4 separate regions of the Homo sapiens genome follow, and regions 2, 3 and 4 are each linked to region 1. Evidence: fine-mapped expression QTL. A gene starts in region 1. Each other region holds a variant in brackets. All regions are shown on one strand. Distances are from middle to middle.

Region 1 (6,334 bases):
TTCCTTCCAACCCCTATTATCTCATTTTGTATTGAAGAAAAGAGGACCTAAAAGGAAGAAGTTGAGGCTGAGGTTGTTTGGGCCACGTTTGAGAACTGCAACCCAAGTGCAGAGTTTCAAGTTGCCCTCATTAGCAAGCAGTTACAAGTGGTTGTTTAGAGGAAAAAAAGCAGTTTTAAAGCAGTTTTAAAGTTGTTTGCCAAGAATTTACATTAAAATAGCATAAGCTTTTGACTGGCTATACATTGTTCTTTGTATTACAAATCTCGGGAATATGTAGGTAATAGATGAGGCAGCCAGTCAGGAACAAAATGCTTTTAAACATGGGGTCTTAACTGAAGACCTATACTCCTGCCTCACTTGTCCTGATAAATTTTGCATACCTCACATAGCTCAGACTGCTCTAAATTATTTCATTATTTTTCTTTTCTCAGTCTTCTAACTTTTTTTTTTTTTTTTAATGAGACGGAGTCTCACTCTGTCACCCAGGCTGGAGTGCAGTGACGCTATCTCGGCTCACTGCACCTCCGCCTCCCGGGTTCAAGCGATTCTCCTGCCTCAGCCTCCCGAGTAGTAGCTGGGTCTACAGGTGTGCACCACTACGCCCAGCTAATTTTTGTATTTTTAGTAGAGATGGGGTTTCACCATGTTGGTTGGCTCGATCTCTTGACCTTGTGATCCACCCGCCTCAGCCTCCCAAAGTGCCAGGATTACAGGCATGAGCCACCGTGCCCAGCCTCTTTTTCTTTTCTTATAAGACAAGTTCTCGCTCTCTTGCCCAGGCTGTAGTGGAGGGCAGTGGCATGACCACAGCTCACTGCAGCCTCGACCTCCTGGGTTTAAGCAATCCTCCTGCCTCACCCTGGCAGAGTGGCTGGGACTACAGGTATGTGCCACCATGTCCAGCTAAAGTCTTCTCTCCAGAAAGAAGAAATGCATTGGAATTTAGAGGATACACAAACATCTAGCTGTATAGCTAATACAGTAGCCACTATCATGAGTAGGAATTTAAATTTAACTTAATAAAAATTAAAATGAAAAAATTCAGTTTTTCTGTTCCAGTTGCCACATTTTGATTGCTTAATAGTTGCATGTGACTAGTGGCTACATAACAGCCTCAATATACAACATTCTGTTATCACAGAAAGTTACCTTGGACCAAGTGCTGGGAGAAGCAATGCAGGCTTCCTCACAAAAGCTGTAAAAGAGAGAACTCAGGGAGTGTGAAACTCTTTCCTATTCTAGTTAACTTCAAGAATAATTGTTACCAGGCCAGCACGGTGGCTCACGCCTGTAATCCTAGCACTTTGGGAAGCCGAGGCGGGCAGATCACCTGAGGTCAGGAGTTTGAGACCAGCCTGACCAACATGGCAAAACCTCATCTCTACTAAAAATACAAAAAGTTAGCTAGATGTGGTGGTGCACACCTGTAATCCCAGCTGCTCAGGAGGCTGAGGAAGGAGAATGACTTGAGCTCCGGAGGGGGAGGTTGCAGTGAGCCCAGATTACACCACTGCACTCCAGCCTGGGTGAAAGAGCGAGAATCTGTCTTAAAAAAAAAAAAAAGAATAATTGGTACCAGAATTACTCTTTGTAATTAGTAGTAACACTTATGCAATTGGGTGATCTGTGACAGATTCCATTGAAGGAGTATGGGGAGCTTCACCCCAATATATGACTCCCTGGTATAATGAGTATTTTGAATTAAAGGCCCTTAGAGATCAGCAGATGCTGGAAGAGACTTTTCCCCTATCTACATAAAGACCAGTCACACTAGACAAGAAGAACAATTGTTTTTCCTTCCAACCCCTATTATCTCATTTTGTACTGAAGAAAAGAGGACTAAGAATGTAACCAGACCTAATCAGACACTTTCACAAAATAATGTCTGTCTCTCAGGCTCATTCATTTTCCAAAGAGAACCATTTACAAGTTAAACTCTGTTCCTCCATTCATTCATCCTCCCAAATATTCATTTATTCTCCCTAGTAATCATTTACTGCCCCTCAAAGAATTACCTATATTCTCCTGATATCACCCTTCCCCTCTGAAATAAATATGTATACATGTATAAACGTTATACATACATATTTATACAGTATACATACATATTTATACATACATACATATGCATACATATTTATATTTATGTATTTATACATAAGTATTTATAAATAAGGCTATATAAGTATCTACCCCCATTGGCAGAGGGGGTAATCACTCTGTGATTCTAGCCCATGTACTTGTTAATAAATTTGTATGCCTTTTCTCCAATTAGCCTGCCTTTTGTGAGTCGATTTTTCAGTGAACTTCAGAAGGCAAAGGGGAAGTGTTCCCTTGGCTCCTACACCATCATGACAATAAAATTTGACTCCACCTCGACCCCCCCCATCCCCCACAAAGAACAACAACCAACACTGGTTAATAAGGTCGGTTGTTTTTTGTTTGTGTTTTTGTTGTTGTTGTTTTTGCTTTCAGGAGCAGAGGTATAATAGGCAAAAGAAAGAGAAAGGAGAATAGTGAATACCTCTTCTGCAGAGAGGGGTGCCTAAGTGGGACTTCCCTGGCTAATAACGTCTTGCTAGAGACCCAACCAGGAGGATAATGGAAGCAATCAAGGCAACCAGAACAACCAGAAGAACCGGTTTATCCTTTTTGTGCCCTCTCCCTAAACTGAGGGAATAAGAATTGGAAAGAAGGCTGCAGAGCAGAGGGTTTGCTCCTGAGGAGCAGTTATTTCTATGGGATCAGAGCTCCTGCAGAACTGGGGAGTTTACTTTTACTATCTCTTCTCCAGGACAGGACCTATCTCAAGAGACATGTTCAGAGTGATTGCAACATAAAGAGTTTGCAGACCCAAGGAGGTAGGGAAGGCAGAAAGAAGATGGGGGAGGCCAGGGATAGGCAACAGAGGAGTGACCAGGAGCGAAAAAGCCTGCCTCTTCTGAGAACCTAGCTGGGCTCTCCCTGTACCCCCGATCCCTCCCCCCCGCCCGCCCCCACACCCCTACTCCTGGGAGCTCCTCTAGGACAGGGGCAGAGTCAGGAGGAAGTTTGAAGAGTGCCTAGAATAAAAAACAGTAATTTAACTACAATTACCGGGTAGGCTGTTTTCCTCTCACAATTTGATCAGTCTCTTGAAGCCACACAGAATTTCTTCTGAAGACGTGTATTCCTTGGCAGGCTATTTCCTCCAGTGATACACCAGGCCCCTCTCTGCTGGGGTCACTGCTCTTCTGGGGAGATGGGGCTCCCCTCCTTCCAAGGCTCCAGGGTTCCTGTCCTGGGCCCCACTCATCTAAGTTCTGAATCTTCTGAGATTTGGTGTAAAGTCTGGTGAAAGAAAGAGCAGGAAAGAGGTGAGAGCTGTAAAACAAAGAAAGTCCTGACCATTTTCAGAGTTGGAGGGGCCCTGCTGTCACGAAATATATTCCCCACCCCACTTGCCATCAGTACACACTCACATATCCACTGAGAAAACCTTAGCCTGGACCTTTTCCGTAACCTTCACTGCTCAGACACTTACATATTCGCTGCTAGTCCCCTCTGTTGCTGCCACTTCCTGGGTCAGGAAGTTAACTCAGACCGGATTAAACTGAGAAGTGAAACTACTGTGGGAGGCGGGGCTCATAAGATTTAGGAGAAAACTAGTGACGTTGTTCATATCATTTGCACTCCGCCTCTCCGGTAAAGGAGGGGGAAACGTAGGAAGAAAATATCCTTCTTTTACAGCAATAAAAAGAAGGAACCAATTAATAACCCTGTAAACTATCATGTGACCCCAACACAGAGTATCTAAAAACAGGAAGCCTGCAGAGGTTCAGTTCACAGACTCTGATTTGAGATCTTTCTACTTTTGCCACCAACTCCCTTGGGAGTCCTTAAGCCTTCCTAGCTGATGTTACTTCTTTTGCTATTTATGGGTTGCTTGTGGTTCTATAACTGCTCTGAAGGGTGTGGTGGAAAAAGGGGTGGTAACAGCAGTAGGACTCATTGGCATCACAAAATTCATCTGAGTCAGCTTTCTATTCTTCTCTGTCCCGTTCTGTGTCTTGTTTTTCTCCTTGCTGTCCTTCTGCAGGACTCAGATCTTCTTCAATAGCGAGGGTCAGCCAGGATAGAAAATGGGAGTCACTAGTGGCCCAGCAGTGAGTGCCCCCAGCTTAGAGCTGTGTGGGATCCCTGGGACCATCACTCTGCTTTGTGCTTTGTGGAGAAAAGGCTGTGGGGTCCAGGGTCAAGTCCTTAATGACTTAGCTCCAGCTTCTCCACTTCAAAATGAAAGGAAAAGTACTATCACCACCCGTTAGAATTATTATTTCATGGGGAAAAAAGATGGATTACTATCTCACAATAAGAGCTTGTCACATTTATAAGTCTCAGGTGTAAGAGGCATTTATGATAACAACATAATAAATGCTGGCTTAAGTAGATGCAGTGGTCCAAGGGAACCAGTAAGGGGAGCTCAGGACACAGGTGGGAGGAGAAATTAAACTTGAATTCTGGGAGCCACTGGCCTGTCTGGGCCCCTGGCCTGCCTGCTGACCCTGATAGCCAATGGAACATGGAGTTTGGCCCAGCTGCAATCCCTCTGGTCCAACTACTCAAAATAAAGGCAAGATTGGGAAACACGTTCCTTTCTTCCTATACCAAGCAGAAGACTCTTCAGCACTGCACCCTCCTGGGTGCTCACAGAGCCTTCTGTTGTTTTGCCACCTACGATTCATCATGCCCTGGCATGATGGTTGCAGACCCCATGCATAGCATGGGACATTCTACTCCTGAGGCAACCAGCACACAGAGAGAGGAGAAAGAATGAGCCCCTGAATCCTTGGTCCCACGATGAGTCCTTGCAGATATCTACAACTTTCATTGTTGTGGATGTGACTCTGTACCCAGGCATGGCTCATTCCAGATCTGTCCTATTGTCAGAGGTGTTCAAACCAGAATGACTCCATTTTGAATGGGGGCTAGGTAAAATAAGGCTGAGACCTACTGGGCTGCATTCCCAGGAAGTTAGGCATTGTAAGTCACAGGATGAAATAGGCAGTTGGCACAAGACACAGGTCATAAAGATCTTGCTGATAAAACAGGTTGCAGTAAAGAAGCTGACCAAAACCCACCAAAATCAAGATGGCAACAAGAGTGGCCTCTAGTCATTCTCATTGCTCATTATACACGAATTATAATGTGTTAGCAAGTTAGAAGGCATTCCCACCAGCTCCATAGTGGTTTATAAATACCATGGCGATGTCAGGAAGCTACCCTATATAGTCTAAAAAGGGGAGGAACGCTTGGTTCTGGGAATTGCCCACATCTTTCCCAGAAAACATATGAATAATCCACTCCTTGTTTAGTACATAATCAAGAAATAACTGTAAGTATCTGTATTAGTCCATTTTCACACTGCTGATCCAGACATACCTGAGACTGAGTAATTTATACCAGGAAAAAATGTTTCATGCTCTTACAGTCCCACGTGTCTGGGGAGACCTCACAACCACAGCAGAAGGCAAGGAGGAGCAAGTCAGGTCTTACATGGATGGCAGCAGGCAAAGAGCTTGTGCAGGGAAATTCCTTTCTATAAAACCATCAGGTCTCATGAAACTTATTGACTATCATGAGAACAGCAGTATAAATTACTCAGGGAAAGACCTGCCCCCATGATTCAATTACCTCCCACCAGGTCCCTCCCACAATATGTGGGAATTTAAGATGAGAGTTAGGTGGGGACACAGCCAAACCATATCAGTATCCTTAGTCCAGAAGCTGATGCTCTGCCTGTAGAGTAGCCGTTCTTTTATTCCTTTACTTTCTTGCTTTCACTTTACTGTGTAGACTTGCCCCAAATTCTTTCTCACACGAGATCTAAGAACCTTCTCTTAGGGTCTGGGTTGGGACCCCCTTTCTGGTAACACTATCAAAGGATCAGGAAAAGGAAGCTAGTGAATGCTAAAAAGGAAACAAACTACCATTACCAATAATAACAGCAAGACAAAAGCAAAACGGATTGTGACAGCTGTCCCATCTCACACCTGTTTCCCATTGCAGGAAGGAGGGGCTGGTTCATGCACAGAGTGGCCAATATTAGAAGCAGAGATGGGGTGCAGATGAGACTTCAGGAATATGTTGACAAAGGCAGGCCTAGGGAGAAATCAACCTGAACTATCCCCAAGGAGGAATGCATTATCTCTAATATGTAAAGTTAGGCTTGATCCTGTGATTATGGGATATAGGAGTCCAAAGACTCACAATGGGAAGTAGGTCACTAGAGTCTCCTTCAGAAGCTCTGTACTGTGTGTTCCCACTGTGGGCAAGAGTCAGCACTCAGCTA
Region 2 (6,334 bases), 63 kb after region 1:
GCTAACTCCTGCTTTTTTTCTTTTTTTTTTTTTGAGACGGAGTCTCGTTCTGTCACCCAGGCTGGAGTGCAGTGGCACAATCTCGGCTCACTGCAACCTCCGCCTCCCGGGTTCAAGCTATTCTCCTGCCTCAGCCTCCCAAGTAGCTGGGACTACAGGCGCTCACCACTATGCCCCACTAATTTTTGTATTTTTAGTATTGCTGTCATCAATCCACATGTCCAGAAGCACCTAGAAACTCTAATTCTTTGTAGGTATCAAACCCTAGGACTCTTTCCTCTAATCACAATATATAATCCCTGATTCCCAAACACGGTCTTTTCATATACATTTTCCACTGTACATACTTTCTGACCTGGAAAGCTCTTACACAAACACGCCCTCCCCTAGGAAGCCTTTATAAATGTTCCCAGGAAGAATCAGTCACCCAACAGTGTCCTTGTCACATCTTAGGTTCTACACCTTTATTTGTTCTATCTGAATGTAATCTCCCAGAGGGTGTTATCATCTTTTTTTTTGAGATGGAATCTTGCTTTGCTGCCCAGGCTGGAGTGCAGTGGCATGATCTCGGCTCACAGCAACCTCCACCTCCTGGGTTCAAGTGATTCTCCTGCCTCAGCCTCCTGAGTAGCTGGGATTACAGACGTGTGTCACCACACCTGGCTAATTTTTGTATTTTTAGTAGAGACAGGGTTTCACCGTGTTGGCAAGGCTTTCCTCGAACTCCCAAACTCAGGTGATCCACCCGCCTCAGCCTCCCAAAGTGCTGGGATTACAGGTGTGAGCCACCATGTCCAGCCCCATCTTTTTCTTTTAGTTTAGTTCTTAACAAATAGTCTGACACAAAGTGGATATAACAATATTTTGAATTATGAATAACTAAATGAATATTTCCAGATTTCCTGGTGCTCTCAAAGTTTTATGTTACAAAAGAAAAACAAGTCTAAAATACCTGCCTCAAGTTTTTATCTGTACTATGATTTCAAACCAAATAAAAAACAGGTGGGGTAAAAACTGAAACAGGAAATACATATAACTGAAAAATTTTGGTATGTTAGTATGATAATACTAGGTCATTTTTCCTGTTTCCCCAACTTCATTTTCTATAGCAATAAAAAGAAACAAGTAAATGTATATTAATTTAATTTAAAAGAAGTAGTCTACCATCTCTTCTGTTAAAAAGAAAAAAGTATTTTAAAAAATTATCTCTGGAAGGATACACAGGGAACATTGCTCTGGTTTCTTCCAAGAGAGAAATGAGGAACTAGAGAGCATGGCCAAGTGGGGTTTTGCTTTTGTTTTTGTTTGTCTATCTGTTAGCTTTTTATTATTTTCTTTTGTAGGTTTGAATTTCAAACCACATAAATCTGTTACATGCTCATAATAATAAGTTTAAAATAAAACTTTTGGCTGGGTGCAATGACTTACACCTGTAATCCCAGCGCTTTGGGAAGCAGAGGTGGGAGGATACTTGAGGCCAGGAATTTGAGATCAGCCTGGGCAACATAGTGAGACCCTGCCTCTGTAGAAATAAACAAAAATTAGCTGGATATGGTGGTGCATGCTTGTACTCCTAGCTACTTGGGAGGTTGAGGCAGGAGGATCCTTTGAGTCCAGGAGTTTGAGGCTGCAGTGAGCTATAATCACCCACTGCACTATAGCATGGGCAATAAGGTGAGAACTTGTCTCAAAAAAAAAAAAAGGGGGGGGGAAACAAATAAATAAATATAAACAAAACTTTTGTTTCAAAATATGTAATATTTAGCACTAAAGAATTCTGAATTGTAGAGCTAAAAAGTACTTAAAAGTTAATAACTATTGTCTCCTTTAAAAGAATTGTTATCAAAGTATAATTTTTATCCAGAAAATCATCCATATCAGCAAGCTAAACTTTCTCAAAATGACATATCCATGTAATTAGCTCCCAGGTAATTAGCAGGCAGCCTCTACTCAGGTTGAGTATTCCTAATCTAAAAATTGGAAATTCAAAATGCTCCAAAATCGGCAACTTTTTGAATGCTAACATGATTCTCAAAGGAGTGCTCATGGAATATTTCAGATTTTGGATTTTTGGATTTGAGATACTCAGTATAATGCAAACATTCCAAATCTGAAAAAATCTGAAATACTTCTGGTTCTAAGCATAAGGGATACTCAACGTGTGTTAGCTAATTAGACCCTTCATGGTCTCTTCTAGACCTCAGCTTCTTCAAGGTAACCTCTATCCTCACTTCTAATAGCATGAACTTTTCTGTTTTAGAATAATTTGGATTTTCAGGAAAGTTGCAAAGATAGTACAAAGACAGTACAGGAGAGTTCCCATATATCTTTCACCTAGCTTTCCCCCATTGTTAGGATTTTACATTATTATGATACATTTGTCAAATATAAGCAACTCACATTGATACATGAAACTCTATTAACCAAACCCTAGACTTTATGTGGATTTCACCACTGTTTCCACTAATGTTTTCTTTCTGTTCCAAGGTCCAATCTGGAATACCACACTGCATTTTCTTGTCATATCTCCCTAGTCTTTTTTTGTCTGTGACAATGTCTCAGTCTTTTCTTGCTTTTCATGACCTTAACAGTCCTGAAGATCATTTGCTTTTTTTTCATAATTACACCGGAGTTATAGATTTTTTGAAATAATACCACAAGGGCAAAGGGCCCTTCTTGTCACATCATTTTAGGGAGAACATGATATCCACATGACATCACTGATATTAACCTTCATCATGTGGTTTAGGTAATGTTTCAGGTTTCTCTACTGCAAAGTGATTTTTTTCCCTTAATTTAGCCCACCTGAACTTATCAATTTTGTTTTCTTCCATGACTAATACTTTTGTTATTATAGCTAAAACTTCA[T/C]TGGGGCCAAATCTTAGATCATGTAAATTTTCTTCTATATTTTATTCTAAAAGCTTGTAATGTTTGATACATTCTAAAAGATGTAATGTTTGATACATTACATCTAGTCCTTTGATTTATTTTTAGTTACTTTTGTATAAGGTGTGAGAGATGTCTCCAGTTTCACTTTATTAACACATTGTGGTGTTCCAGTACTATTTGTTGCTAAGACTATCTTTTTTCCATTGATTACCTTTGCCTTAGTTGGCAATATTTTTGTTGGTTTATTTCTAGACTGTTTATCTCATTCCACTGATTTGTGTCTATCTTTTTGACAAAACTGTTGATTACAGTAAGCTTTGAAATAGTTCATTTTTTGTGTCAACTTGACTGAGTCAGGGGATAACCAGCTATCTGGTTAAACATTATTTCTGGCTGTGTTTGTGAGCGTGTTTCTGGATGAGATTAGCCTTTGAATAGGTGATCCTAGTAAAGTAAACTGTCTTTCCCAGTGTGGATGGCATTATGCCACCTGATATTCAGGGTCTGAATAGAAGAAAAGGCAGAGGAAGGGGGAATTTGGGCCTTTTTTTCTGCCTCACTGCTTGAGCTGGGACATCTCATCTGGTCTCCTGCTCTTGAACTGGGATTTACATCATCAGTTCCTCTGGTTCTCAGGCCTTCAGATTCAGACTGAATCATACCACCAGCTTTCCTGGGTCTCCAGCTTGCAGATTACAGATCATGGGACTCCTCATCTTCCATAAATGCATGAGCCAATTCAGTCTATGTCCTTGAAAACTGCCCCACTGCAGATTAAGGCTTTTTTCCACTAGGTGAAATAAAGAAGCTTGTTAGACAGATTTCCCTTCATCCAGTGCCCTCTCCTCTTTAAGTTACAACACATTGGCTACACCTAAGTGCAGGGGTGGGGATGAGGGTATAGTCCTCTTGTTTGCTGAGAAGAGAACTGTATTGGGAAAGCTCTAGAAGTGTTTGATACATACATAAACAAGGCATGGTTTTTGCACTTAATTTCACATTACATTTTTCCCAGAAAAAAAGGAATGTATAGGCATCACGTAACTGTACTAGCTGGAGTCATTCTTCCTGATTATCAAAGGTAAACAGTTATTAATCCTATACCAAGATGTCAAGGAGAAGTACTTTTGGAACACAAGGAATTCTCTGGGAGTCCTTACTACTCTCAAGCCCAGTGAAAAAGTTAATGAAAAACTATAGTACCTTCCTATAAGCTGGATGACTAATTACCAGGCTCATTTAGGAATTTGCCTTACCAAGTAAAACATAAGGGCAGCTGAGGTGCTGACTGAAGACAAATGGAGCATAGAATAAGAGTAGTAAAGAATGCCAAAAATGCTGTCATGTATCCATTGACAAAAGGAGCTATAAAGCCTTTAGGTATTTTCACACTTGCTCTGTTACGTAAATGTATGTGTGTGTGTGTGTGTGTGTGTGTGTGTGATCGTTTATTTTTTCCTTCTTTCCCACTAAGATGTATTAATACTGATTAACACTATAAGTTAAGCTTATAGGATAGGCTATCAAAAAATGATTGTGACTGAGCTGAAAAGAACATTACTCAGGATGGATACAGTGAGTTTCAGATGTTTGTATTCTACTTGGGAGCTACAGACAATAAAAAAGTAAAAACATATACAGTTTGTCAGCTACTGATAAGTGCTATGGAAAAAATTAAAGAAGGAAACGGGGATAGGGTGGGATTAGGTGTGGTAGCCATTCTAACCTTGGTGCTGAAATCTATCAGTATTCTGTTCAGCGATCCACTGTCTGCTACCTGGCCATATCCCCCTGGGAAGTGTGAGCCACATTACTAGCTTCATGTGGTGAATTCTGACTGGTCCACACCAGTCATGTGGTCCCTTCTTCTGTAGCTGATTAGCTCAGGCAGCACCTGAGACTAGGCCAAGTTTTGGCAAATGAGACATAAGGGGGAGTTTTCTGGAAAGGCATTCCTTGATCTCCAAGAGAAACGCACTGTTTCTTCCTGCCTTTAACTTGTGTCTGCATGGACACTTGAAACTGTGACCAGCATGGGGGGTAAAGCCTGCTGTGAAGGAGAGCAGAGGCAAGAAGACTGAGGGCAGTGGAGCCAGAGCTCTGATCACCCTGCTCTGGAACCTTTCTGCCTTTGATGTCCTGTTTGGGGAGATAAGAAATTTATATAGTGTTTAAATTTGTTGAGTCAGCGTTTTCTGTACCTGCAGTCAAAAACATGCTGAGTGATTCAAGAAGTTGGTCAGAACTTCAAAAAATTATTATTCTACATTTTCCCCCAAGTTTTTCTGAGGAAAGAGAGTGCTTGGTAGGCAGGATAACCCTGGAAAGTGGCCATGGGGCTGAGGCGGGTTTTGGAGAAATGCAGACACTGTTGTCTGATGTGAGTTTCACCTGATGAGGGATCAGGATCTTCTTTCATATAATTTGGGAAAGCAGATGTTGGTCCCTTTAGATCTGTTAACTGACATTTAGCATTCAAAACTGTCTCGTGATTCACAGAAGTGTTGTAAGATATTATGCAGATTTTAGCACAGCATTCAACCATTCAATCAGATTTTTATAAAGACTTTTTTTTTTTTTTTTTTTTTTTTTTTTTGAGACGGAGTCTTGCTCTGTCGCCCAGGCTGGAGTGCAGTGGCGGGATCTCGGCTCACTGCAGCTCCGCTCCCGGGTCACGCCATTCTCCTGCCTCAGCCTCCCAAGTAGCTGGGACTACAGGCGCCCGCCACCTACGCCCGGCTAATTTTTTGTATTTTTAGTAGAGACGGGGTTTCACCGTTTTAGCCGGGATGGTCTCGATCTCCTGACCTCGTGATCCGCCCGCCTCGGCCTCCCAAAGTGCTGGGATTACAGGCGTGACCCCGCGCCCGGCCTTATAAAGACTTTTTAGATAAAAACAGAATCTATATCTCTAATGTATGTATTAAGGATGAACCCCGGCTGGGCGCAGTGGCTCACACCTGTAATCCCAGCACTTTGGGAGGCCGAGGCGGGTAGATCACTTGAGGTCAGGAGTTCGAGACCAGCCTGGCCAACACGGCGAAACCCTGTCTCTACTAAAAATACAAAAATTAGCTGGGCATGGTGGCAGGCACCTGTAATCCCAGCTGCTTGGGAGACTGAGGCAGGAGAATCGTTTGAACCTGGGACGTGGGGATTGCAGTGAGCCAAGACTGCACCACTGCACTCCAGCCTGGGCGACAGGGTGAGACAACGTCTCAAAAAATAAAAAATAAAATAAAATAAAAAATGAACCCCTCTCTGTCTTACTCTCTGAATGAGTGAGTCTGAAATCCAGTGGGTTTGGCCAAGCAAGGTAGATGTCTGTGTATATATGGGGGAAGGATGTTTAGTGACAGTTGCCTGGAGTGGAGTGAAGAAACCTAAGCAGAGTGAGAGAGAGGCAACAGTGGAGGCCCAGTGAGAGTACTGCAACTTGAATAGG
Region 3 (6,334 bases), 23 kb after region 1:
TTCTTCTGCATTAAAAAATATCATTACATTTTGCATGAATTATTAGGAGAAAATATTTTCCAATTTTCCTGGAAAATGCCATAACCACGTCTCTCAATTTTGTTTCCATCTTTCTTCCACATTTTACATAACCTACATAAGAGACACATTATCAAGTATATTTTACATGGCTTCTCAGTGTCTTCTCTGTCTGCTAACAGGTTTACCAAGAGATGGCACTCTTGTATTTCTGGTGGCTATGTCCATATCGTTTTGCCTTTAAGACAGCGTAACTACTTCTTTCACCAGTATTAAAGACATGTACATTTGATCTGGTTCTTGTGGATGATTTTAAATGACTCAAGCTAATAATCCTAATTTTACCTAAACACTCCATTATTTTAAAATGTATTCCTTTATGCCCACAATAAACATTTATTGACATTAGGCTGGACATTAGGCTTCTCTATGGCAGACATTAGGCTGGACCCTAGCCATATATCTATTGAGGGAAAAAAAATTATTTTCTATATAAGTTTCCAGAAAGCCAAGATGTGTTTTAAAAACAAAACAAAACATTACATTCTAAATGCTGTAACAAGATAAGAAAAAGTGTTGAGGCTGAGAGAAGAACAAAGCAGCAAGCAACTCCTGGAAGGACCACTGCTGCAGAGGTAATAACTGGTGAACCATGTTTTGGAGAAGGAAAAGGTCACCAAGAGAAGGAGGGGGTCCAGGGTGTTCAGAAAGATTGCATGCATAAAGATCAAGGGTAATAAAAAAAATTCCGTATTATGTAAATGTGAAGTTCCAGGACCATGAGCTTGGAGAGCATGAAGTACAGGAGGAGGGTTGGTTTCAAATAAATCTGGGAATGAAACAGTGAAGCCTCTGGCAGAACTCACATCTCTTTCCTCCCCTCTTCCTTGCACATTCCCTTTATGGAGTAATTGCAGGGATGGGAAAAGTTCAAAACCACCACTGAGCCTAGGAAGTGCTAGGGTAAAGTGGAGAATGAACCTGCGTGATTTGCTCATCCTAAACTAGGTTCTTCTAGGAGAGCCCTTCCCCATAAAATCTGCCCTCCTCGAAGGGGCCCAGACAGCCTAAGCTCACCTCCCAAAGACCCCTTACTTGCTGACTGAATCTGATTCCACCCAGACATGGCCTAAAACCCTTCCATAACTCTATAGCCAAATTCAATTTTAGACAGGCCTCATACCAACCTTTCTTCCTCTAAGTCTGCCACCCTAGGCAATTCTCAACATTCTCTACACACTTTGGGGCCATAGACGTGCTACCAAGTCTCCAGACCTAGACCTGATGGAGCAGTGCTGTAATGAGACGACCACTGGCCTTTGAACCAGACCCTTCTCTGTGGCTCCTATGCATCTCCAACCTGTTTTGAGCACTGCTGCCAAGACATCTTTGGCACTTTGTTGTGAAGTTTTAAAACTGAACTAATCTACAAAACACCTAACCTTTAAAAATTCATTGTCATTTCATATCATGAAAGATAAAGAAAGGCCAGGAAACTGTTCCAGGTTAATAGAGACTAAAGAGATAGCAACCAAATGCAATTTGTGATCCTGGATTGAGGGGAAAAAGTGTTGTCAGAGACATGATTGGGACAGCTGGTAAAATTTGAATTTGAATTTAAAGATAAAGTATTGAGTAATATAGGAAGATGATTATCTGCAACTTTCAAATGTTTCAGTAAGTATATATATATATAAAGAGATATAAAGACATATAAATAAATGGATAGGTAGAGAAAAAGCAAATGTATAATATTAACAATCTAGGTAAAAAGTATATGAGTGTTCTTTGTACTGTTTTTCTGATTTTTCTATATGTTTGAAATCATTTTAAAATAAGAAGGTTTTTGGGTTTTTTTTGTTTGTTTTTTGTTTTTAGAGACAGCATCTTATTCTGTCACCAGGCTGTAGCTCAGTGGCCCAATCATTGCTCACTGCAGCCTCAACTTCCTGGGCTCCAGTAATTCCCCCTACCTCAGGCTCATGAGTAGCTGGTACTTCAGGTGTGCACCACTGCACTCAGCTAATTTTTATTTTTTAAATTTTTGTAGAGATGGCATGTTGCTATGTCACCCAGGCTAGTCTCAAACTCCTGCCCCCAAGTGATCCTCCCACTTTGGCCTCCCAAAGTGCTAGAATTATAGGCATGAGCCACTGCACCCAGCCCCAAATAAAAAAGTATTTTATTTTAATTAACTAATTAACTTTGAGTCAGAGTTTCACCCTTGTCACCCAGGCTGGAGTGCAATGGCATGATGTTGGCTCACTGCAAACTCTGCCTCCTGTGTTTAAGCGATTCTCTTGCCTCAGACTCCTGAGTAGCTGAGATTACAGGTGCCTGCCACCATGCCCAGCTAATTTTTATATTTTTAGTAGAGACGGGGTTTCAGCATGTTGGTCAAGCTTGTCTCAAACTCCTGACCTCAGGTGATCCACCCACCTCCGCCTCCGAAAGTGTTGATGAGCCACCACACCCGGTCTAAAAAGTATTTTAAAACCACAGTCCCACTCTACCTTGTCCTACACTACCAGGGGCTAGGATCACCCCATGTCTTCTAGGCTATGAGATAGAGGAATCCAAGGAAGAAGATAAGCTACTTGGTTCCTCTATAGGGTCTTGTGTGTGCTCTCATGTGCTCTCTCTCTCTCTCTCTCTCTCACACACACACACACACACACACACACACACATGAATACCAGAGCTATCACTTTCCCAGTCTAGTACTCATCTCATCCCAAGGGTTTTGTGTTGTAGTGGTTTGCTCATTTCTTTGTTTTGTTTGTTTGCTTGGATTATTCTTTTTCTCTTTTTGCAGCTGAAGGGAGAATTTCCAGGCCAGCCCTTTGGCCATTAGAGTTACAGTGCCTCTATTCAGGCTTCATAGAGAGACCTGGGATTCAGTAGTGGGGGGCTTTTATCCAGTTCAAAATAATGCATTCTCACCAAGATGTACTTTGAAATAAAACAATACTAAAACACAAAATTTTATTTATGCTGAACATTGAATCACTTTTTTCTGTATTTTGTGTAGAAAGTTATACACACACAAACACATTTGCTCCTGCTTTGTTTATTGGCCCAGGGGTATGTTTGGTAATACTTCATCAGGCATGAGTAGTACGTCTTGGAAGGTGTGGTCTAAAGCCTAGACTCCTATCTGCTTCCTTCAGCATTCTCCAGTGTATCTGTCATCTGTCTACCTTAGGATAGGGGTCTCCAGAACTTCCATTCACATTTAGAAGAGGGCAGCGGCTTTCTATGGAAAATATGAACTCTCATTCATCTCTATTCCTTCTTCTAGCTATGGTCCAGCTCAGCTGTTTGGAATAAAGTATCTATATGAAGTCTGCGAATGGTTCTCAGACTGGTTGAACATTAGAATCACCTGAGTACCTTCTAAAATTCTTATTACCCAGGGCATATCTCAGAATGAGTACCGCAGGGTAGGGATAGGATTAGGGATCATGATCTCTGGAGTCTGGTTTAGGCACTAGTGCTGTTTAAAACTACGTTCATGAGGTGGAGGTTGCAGTGAGCCGAGATGGCGCCACTGCACTCCAACCTGGGCGACAGAGTGAGAGTCTGTCTCAACAAAACAAAACAAAAAAAACCAACTACCCTTGTGATTTGAATGTCCATCCAAAATTGAGAACCATTAGGTAAGGCCAAGCTGTATAATTAAAGAGCAGTTTTCATTTGTCTGGTGTGGTGGCAGCTTTTTGATAAGGGAAGTATTGTTGCCATCCACATACCTGAGCCTCACTCCTGAGAACACTGGTGTGTATGTTGCTAAAATTCCCCAGGTGATTCTGAGGTTCCTTCCTGGATAAAAACCACTGACCCTGGGAATGTACCCACTGCCAATCTCCTGC[G/A]TAAACCTTGGATACTGGGAAGCCTACAGTTGAAAATATTGGGCTTGAGATCCTGAAACAAATCTTGTATTTCATTAAGACTAATATTTGGTACAGTGCAGCAAATCAAGGGAATTTTGGTGGCTGAGTTCTTTTAGAACTTTTGCATTGAAATAGGTTCAAGCAGCAATAAGTTAAAACTACAACCTCAGCTAAAGGATTAAAAGACACGTGAGCTGGGTAGGATGAGGTCTAAGGTTGGGTGTGGCGGCTCATACCTGTAATCCCAGCACTTTGGGAGACTGAGGTGGGTGGATCACTTGAGGTCAGGAGTTCAAAACCAGCCTGGCCAACATGGTGAAAACCCATCTCTACTAAGAATACAAAAAAATTAGCTGGGCGAGGTGCCAGGCACCTGTAATCCCAGCTACTGGGGAGGCTGAGGGAGGACAATCACTTGAACTCAGGAGGCAGAGGTTGTAGTGAGCTGAGATCGCACCACTGCACTCCAGCCTGGGTGACAGAGCAAGACTCCATTTAAAAAAAAAATAATAATAATAACAATAATAATAATTCAGACATATCCAGGCATCAAACAGATACCTGGGGCAGATGAATAGTCTTGAGATTCAAGTCACACATGAAATTTAGGTGGAAAATGACATTGGAGAAATTTGAGATTATGATGAATGGAAATTTTTCAAAGAGGAATTTCAGGCTCTGTTCTTGAGGGGATAGATGGACTTCCAACAGCAATAACACAGGATTAATGAGGACTTGGGATGTTACATAAATTAGAGATGTTAGATGGATAAAGAGATAAAAGTACTCTCTCTAAGAACATGGGACCAGAGATAGGCTCACTTCTAACCATCAGATATAACTAGCAGACTAAACGGTCTAAAAATAAAAATCATGCCCCACTCCTGCTTAAGACATTTTAATTACTCTCAGTAACTCTTCAGTTTTTCTACTGTGTTATCTTTAACTACAGGGTTGGTCTGGGTGTGCAACACAAGAAAGCCTGGCATATACATGGATTCAAGTGTATGCCATGTGCAGGTATTCTTTCATGTACTATTTCATGTATTCTTTTTCACATCTGTTTTTTCCTTCATTGAAGTCAATGGCTGATATTAGATTCTACTATTCATGTGTACTAGTTATATATAATTGTTACAAAACAAATTAGCAAAAACTTAGTGGCTTAAAGCAACACACATTTATTATTACCTAAGGTCTGTGGATAGAAGTTCTGACATGGCTTAACTGGGTTCCCTGCTTCAAGCCTCATGTGGCTGCAATCCAGGTGTTGGCTGAGTCTGAATTCTCATCAGAGGCTTGATTGTGGAAATTTCCACTTCCAAGCTCCCTCAGGTTTGTTGAAAAATTCAGTTCTTTGCACCGGTAGAAGCTTCTTGGTAGAGGCTGATTCAACTTCTAGAGGCTGTCTGCAGTTCCTGTCACCCAGGGTGGAGTGCAGTGGAGCAATCATAGCTCACTGCAGCCTTGACCTCCCAGAATCAATCTGTTCTCCCACCTCAGCATCCTGAGTAGCTGGGACCACAAGTGTGTGCCATCACACCTGCCTAAAAAACAAACAAACGAAAAAAAACCCCCAGAGAACTTTGTAGAGACAAGCTGGTCTGGAACTCCTGCGCTCAAGCAATTCTCCTGCCTTAGCCTAAAAGTTCTGGGATTATAGGTATAAGCCACCATACCTGGCATATGGCAAGTCTTGAGCAGGACAAATACAGATGATTTATGTCTGTCTTCCATGGTATTCTAGGTTATTGTTGAGATGGTCCTCTATTGTCTTGTTCCATCTATTGATTAGATAAAACGTTGTTCCTTCTGTTATTTTTCAACAGTAGCTTTTATGTGTCTCTCTTTATCTTAAAATTCTAACCAAAGAGCTGCTCTTTTCTTGGTGTACTTTACCTTTGGTTGATCCTTCTTAACCTCTTCTTGCCCTCTGGGGCCTAAGATGAGGGCTGTTATCAGATGTGAGTCTATGGGAAAGCAAGCAAGAGGTTCTTCAGCCTCCGTTCAGCCTTAAATGTCTAGGTAGAAATCAGTCATGGCCCTTCCAATGTGGTACAGACCAGATCACAGAGACAGGGGTCTCAGCCAAGGTCTTGTGGCCTAAGCCTTATAGAAATAATGAGTGTTTACTTACTTGGAGAACTCCCTTGGAATATCTTTTTTTGTGAACCTGAGGCAACTTTTGGTGATTTCTTGATGTCTTGGGAATCTTGGTCTAGAGCCATTTCAACCCGATTTCTTTTCATGTCAGTGGCATTTTGTGACCAGATAGTAAATAAGTTCTATGATGTTCACTCAGAGAAATACAATGACTTATGATGCGAAGCTTCTGTGGTTCAGCCCTTACTTCATCTTCATTCCCTCTTATCTGCATCTGTCTCCTGCTTGGGAACAAAAGTCTGGCTTCATTCTATGACCCC
Region 4 (6,334 bases), 110 kb before region 1:
AAAAAAATTATATATATATATATATATATATATATATATATATATATATATGAAATAAATGAACAAGAAATTTAGATACAGGAAAATCCAAAGCACTTGGTAATGAAAGAAAGGTAAAGTGATGTGTCCTTTTGCATTTAAAAGAGAGCATTAACAAATTAGAGAGCTGAATAATGCTCAGTATTGGTGTGGATATGGAGACTCAGGAATCCTCATACACTGCTGATGGGAGTGCCCACTCCCTGGGAATATTTTCCAAATATCATCTCAAACATATCCCATAAAGGTGACAGGAAAGTGTGGGCTGACTGATATCCTTCACTGAGAGAGGTGGAGGTAAAATGAAGTCACTGCACAATATAGAGTTGGAAGCAATGGATTAGATGTCCACATAGTTACGTGGAAGAATCCGTAAGATACACACACACACACACACACACACACACCTTTGTGTATATTGTTCCTGGCAGGTAGGCATGGAGGTTTAGAGGCTTTCTACATCACACCTACTGCACACAGTAAATGGCCAGGCTGAGCACTGACTTCCATGAAGGGAGATTGAAGGTAAGAGATTGAAGATTGTTCCCTGGTCTGGGACCCTGCAACTGAATATGCAGAAAAAAGTACACCCCGCCACCCCGCTTCCCATCTTTCCTACCTGATTAGAATAGCTTTTTCAGAAAACGTTGGCCAGGGGTTGTGGCTCACACCTGTAATCCCAGCACTTTGGGAGGCTGAGGCGGGCAGATCATCTGAGGTCAGAAGTTCCAGACCAGCCTGGCCAACATGGCGAAACCCCATCTCTACTAAAAATATAAAAAATTAGCAGGGCATGGTGGCACACACCTGTCATCCCAGCTACTCGGGAGCCTGAGGCAGGAGACTCACTTGAAGCACAGTGATGGAGGTTGAAGTTAGCTGAGATCTTGCCACTGCACTCCAGCCTGGGCAACAGAGTGACACTTTGTCTCAACAACAACAACAAAACCCACCAAAACTTTAAATCTACCTATGGCCAAATGCCTGCTAAAATGAGCACCCAAGAAGCAGTGTTCAGGAAAGTCAGATGAATACCCTAAAATTAGATGCAATGTTGGCTGGTCACAGTGGCTCAGGCCCTGTAATCCCAATCCTTCTTGGGAGGCCGAGGCGACAGATCGCTTAAGCTCAGGAGATCGAGACCAGTCTGGACAACATGGTGAGACCGTGTCTCTACAAAAACGTACAAAAATGAGCTGGGAGTGGTGGCGCGCACCTGTAGTCCCAGCTACTCAGGAAGCTGAGGTGGGAGGATCTCTTGAACCCAGAAGGCGGAGACTGCAGTGAGCAGAGATCATGCCACTACACCCCAGCCTGGATGATAGAGCCAGACCCCCATCTCCAGAAAAAAAAAATAAAGAGAGAGAGAGATGCAATATTTAGGGTTCAACAAGACTGAATTTCTGACTCCTTTCCCTACCTCTCCAGCATGTTAGATTCTGGGTCCTTCATCCTAACCCCCTGTTCATGCCATAGCCACCCTGTGGTACCAACTTTGGAAGCCTGGATCTTCATCCCCTCATGATAATGAGTGTCCCATCAGGTCTCCATGCTCAGCTTGGCAAGAGTATCTGTCTTCTCCTCATGGGACGGTCACATTCACCCAGCACTGACAGGTTCCATTCCCACTAGGGTGGCACCCTATATGGTCTGAGTCCAGGCCTTCCTGGTCCCTCAGTAATCTCAGCATGGTAGCACAATCGAAAAGGGCTAGGCACGGCAGCACCATTTCCCACCAAGAGGTCTGATGGCTCATCACATAGACTGAAGGAGATTCTGAAGAGCAGAGGTGGAATGAAGAATGAATCGTGGGCTCTGCTCTTCCTAGGCCTGTCTTCCTCTCTCCCGAGATGTTAGCTAACTCATGAGAGCCAGAAACCAACTGCAGGCTGGCCTCAGGCACTTAGGTAGTGCTTCAGCCTCAGCAGTCCACATTCTAGGAACCCTCATAATATGGGTTGAAGTATGCATTCCCACAAAAATAAAGTTGTTGAAGTCCTAACCACCAGTACTGAAATGGGAAAAGTTCCCTTGTCCCGCTCGCATGGCATGTGATAGGAGTGTGGCTAATTTCTTCAGTGCCTGGCTGCTCAAACCTCTAGGGGAACATTAAGACGGGCAGGTTGTGGGTCTCCAACCCCATGACCCCACCACAGTGTCTAGGGTTGAATGTTTACAGCTCCTGAAGCCACAGTGGGTGTGTGTTACAGGGTGCTCTTTTAGTTTTGCCATTTATAGGCAGCTGGTGTTAACCAACTCAATTAGACCGTCTACCTTGTCCCAAGGACAGAAGAAGGCTTTCTGTATCCCAGGTTCTTGCCTTGGTGTACCGGAATAAATCAGACCACACCTGGGCTTAGAGAAAGAGTGCAAGGTTTTATTAAGTGGAGGTAGCTCTCAGCAGTTGGGCAAAGCCAAAAGTGGATGGAGTGGGAAAGTTTTCCCTTGGAGTCAGCCACTCAGTGGCCCAGGCTCTCCTCCAACCACCCCAGTCAAATTCCGCCTCATTTTGCCAGGCAAACGTTTGTTGTGTGCTCTTCTGCCAGTGTGCTCCCCTGGACGTCCAGCTATTCGTGTCTTGTGGCAGGCCAGGGGAGGTCTTGGGAAATGCAACATTTGGGCAGGAAAACAAAAATGCCTGTCCTCACCGTGGTCCCTGGGCACAGGCCTGGGGGTGGAGCCCTAGCCGGGGACCACGCCCTTCCCTTCCCCACTTCCATATCATTTAAAGGGACCATGCCCTTCCCTTCCCAGCACTTTCCCCCTCCTGTATCAGGACCTGTGAATGTGGCCTTATTTGGAAATAGGGTCTTTGCACTTCATCAGTTAAGATAAGAGTGGGCTCTAACCCAACATAAAGGGTGTCCTTATAAAAAGGAGAAATGTCATACACAGAGACTGACACCTATAGAGAGAAAATGTGGTGAGTAGACACAGGGAGAATCACCATTCAAGTCAAGCAATGAGTCTGGGGATACCAGAAGCTGGGAGAGAAACCTGGAACAGATTATCCCTCATTGCCTTCAGAAGGAATCAAACCTGATGATACTTTGATTTCAGACTTCCAGCTTCCAGGACTGTGTGACGATAAATATCTGTTGTTAAGCCAACGAGTTTGAGGTACTTTGTTACTGCAGCCCCAGAAAACTAATACAGTAGGTACTATGGACTGAATTGACTCCCCGTCGCAAAATTCATATGTTGAAACCCTAACCCCCAGTGTGATGGTACTTGGAGCTGGGGCGTTTGGGAAGTCATTATATTTAGACAAACTCATCAGGATGTGTCTCTCATGATGAAATTCATGCCCTTATTAAAAGAGACAACAGGCCAGGTGCAGTGGCTCATGCCTGTAATCCCAGCACTTTGGGAGGCTGAGGTGGATGGATCACCTGAGGTTGGGAGTTTGAGACCAGCCTGGCCAACATGGTAAAACCCCATGTCTACTAAAAATACAAAAATTGGCCAGGTGTGGTGGTGCACGCTTGTACTCCCAGCTAC[C/T]TGGGAGGCTGAGGCAGGAGAATCCCTTGAAACCAGGAGGTGGAAGTTGCAGTGAGATCACACCACTGTACTCTAGCCTGGGTGATAGAGACTCCATCTCAAAAAAAAAAAAAAAAAAGACAATAGAGCCAGGTGCTGCAGCTGATGCCTGTAATTCCAACACTATGAGAGGCTGAAGCAGGAGGCTCGCTTTAGCCCAGGAGTTCAAGACCAGCTTGGACAAAATAGTGAGACCCCCAACTTCTAAAAATTTAAAAAATGAACTGGGTGTGGTGGTACACATCTGAGGCTCCAGCTACTCTGGAGGCTGAGGTGGGAGGATTGCTTGAGCCCAGGAGGAGGCTGCAGTGAGCCATTGCTGTCCAGCCTGGGCTACACGAGAACCTGTCTCGGGAAAAGGAGAAAACAGTGAGACCTCTTTTTCTCTCCTCCTTCTCTCCACTGCCTAAGCCCTACAAGCACAAAAAGGACACCACATGAGCACATAGTGAGAATGCTGCTGCCACCAACAAGTCAGGAAGAGAGCGTTCACCTAGAAACTGAATTGGCCAGCACCTGGATCTTGGACTTCTGAGCTTCCAGAACTGTGAGAAAGTTATTTTTTTTTTAGCGACTAAGTCTATAGTATTTTATTACAGCAGCTCAAGGTAACTAACATAGTAGAAGGGATGAATTATGGAGATCACAAGTCCACGCCTCCAGAAAAAGACTTCCCTAAAAATTAGTCTGAGCAAAATTCGAATGATGAATTATTTTTAAGAACTTTTAAGGGATCTGACAAGTTTGCAAGAGCTAGAGAATGCTTTACAACGTGATAATAGAATGCTCTGTGATGACAGAAATCTTTCCACACTGTTCAAAACTAGCTACTGGCCACTTGTGACTATTGTGCACTTGAAATGTGACTGGTGTCTGAGGAGCAGAATGTTTAATTTTACTTAATTTTAATTCATTACAATAGCTACATGTAGCTAGGGGCTACTGGATTGAACAGCACAGCTCGAGTCTTTTAGAGGGAGACAGGACTCACCAAGATGGATGCTGGTGGCCAAGCAGCAATGGCAGGTAGTACACACACAAGAGGCAGATGATACAACACATCCTTCCCAAACCTGGAGATAAGCTCACCCCACAATCCCGCCGCTGAAATAGAGTTGATGTTACCAATGTGCATTTTTATGTCCTTTTCCATACAGAAAGATCATTCAGCAAGTACTATGGTACTTAAAAAACAACATTCAATTCATTATTATGACAAAATTAAATTAATAGCTCTTCCTTAAACTTTTAAATTCAATTTACAATGCTTACTATTGGCATTTATTAATCTACCAATTTTTTCCCATAGAACCCATAGAACAAATAATCTACCAAATTTTTAACATTCATTTTTGGCAAGGCTTTTGCAATTTGACGAACTTTAAGAAGAAAACTTATAAATTGCAATTTTTAAATCTGACATACTGGACTTTTAAAGTATCCAATTGACTAATGAACAAAACTGCTCCAAATTTTTCAATTCTTAAAAATCTTAAGACAATACTTAATATGGCAAATCTTAACTTCTTAAACTTTGTAAGAATGCTAATCAACTTAGATTGGTATAAAGTTGAGTTAAAAATCACAGGATACATCATCTCAGCTATAAGTTTTCATGAGTTGAGTTTTTACAATCACTTGAAATGCTTAGAATAGGAAATACGTATAAATTATTTAACATAAAATATTGTTACAAAACCTCTGGAGTGTCAGTTTCTCTGGCCAGACTTTATGCTGCAGCACCTTTGCCTGAGTTCTTGTCCTGCATCCAGGAAGAATTAGGTACAGAGGCAAGAGTCAAGAAGATTAGTTTTCCAATAGTTCAGCTCACCTAGTTAACTCCTGTTCACAATCTTCAAAGTTATCAGAAACCTGCAATTGAGGGTTATAATCCATTCTTTGCAGAGTTTCAAAACAAGACAACATTTGTCTATGAATGTTAAAATGTCCTAGGGTAGTCACAGTCAAAAACACAATTGACAAAGAAATTTAGTCACCTCTGTGATTTACAATAGCCTAACACAATAACTCTAATTATAACTGATGACACAAACTCAGATATCAGAACTCTAGAAATCCCCTATAATTTTGGAACACACATTCACAGTTTTCACTGAAATATGACCTGAAGATCAAATATCACCTTATTTCAACAATCCTATATAACTAAACGTGTCAAATGATCCTGTTTACCTCTCCTTTGGATACTCCAGGGGCCCTCTGTAGCATCCAAAAGTTAGGGGTTAGCAAAGACAATTTTGAAGCTGTAAAGGCTCAAAACACTTAATGAACCTCTAGTCATATCTGTTCTCTACTCACTAAATGCTAGTAGCACCTCTCAGTTGTGGCTAAGCTGGGAGGATCTCTTGAGCCTAGAAGTTTGGGGACGCAGTGAGCTATGATTATGCCACTGCACTCCAGCCTGGGCAACAATGCAAAATCCTGTCTCAAAAACAAAAACAAAAAACAAATTGCCTATGCTGTGGTTATCTCACAATTAATAAAAAGGAAAAAAAAAGTATGCAGTCTTTGTAGGTCCTTGGGGTTTGTTGGAACTCAGAAAACAATACCCCAAAATAAAGACCGCAGAAGCCAAAGTTTTTCTCTGATCTTCTCCTGCCCTCCTGTCTCTGAGTCCCATTCTCCCCGGAGTCTAGCCATAGAAATGAGAATTCCTCTTCCTCAAGTTAGGTCATAGAAATCAAAACACCTTTTCCCCAGAGCCCAGCCATAAAACCTAAAAATATTACTCTAA

What was found.
Region 2: its variant is fine-mapped to the expression of TRIM38 in lung (TOPMed, PIP above 0.99).
Region 3: its variant is fine-mapped to the expression of TRIM38 in lung (TOPMed, PIP 0.98).
Region 4: its variant is fine-mapped to the expression of TRIM38 in whole blood (TOPMed, PIP above 0.99). The same link has a PIP of 0.9 or more in T cells and blood mononuclear cells.

Annotation. Positions count from the first base shown.
Region 1 is chr6:25,960,048-25,966,381 of GRCh38, reverse strand. TRIM38 (tripartite motif containing 38) reads right to left here and starts at 3,580. Exons shown (of 8, transcript NM_006355.5): 1 at 3,527-3,580; 2 at 3,100-3,333; 3 at 1-47.
Region 2 is chr6:25,897,200-25,903,533 of GRCh38, reverse strand. No RefSeq gene overlaps it. Among named protein-coding and RNA genes, the nearest start is that of SLC17A3, 26 kb to the right of the region's middle. RefSeq lists an enhancer at 4,829-5,418. The variant T/C (reference allele first, on the strand shown) is at 2,869.
Region 3 is chr6:25,936,618-25,942,951 of GRCh38, reverse strand. No RefSeq gene overlaps it. Among named protein-coding and RNA genes, the nearest start is that of SLC17A2, 9.1 kb to the right of the region's middle. The variant G/A (reference allele first, on the strand shown) is at 3,891.
Region 4 is chr6:26,067,682-26,074,015 of GRCh38, reverse strand. No RefSeq gene overlaps it. Among named protein-coding and RNA genes, the nearest start is that of H1-2, 14 kb to the right of the region's middle. The variant C/T (reference allele first, on the strand shown) is at 3,541.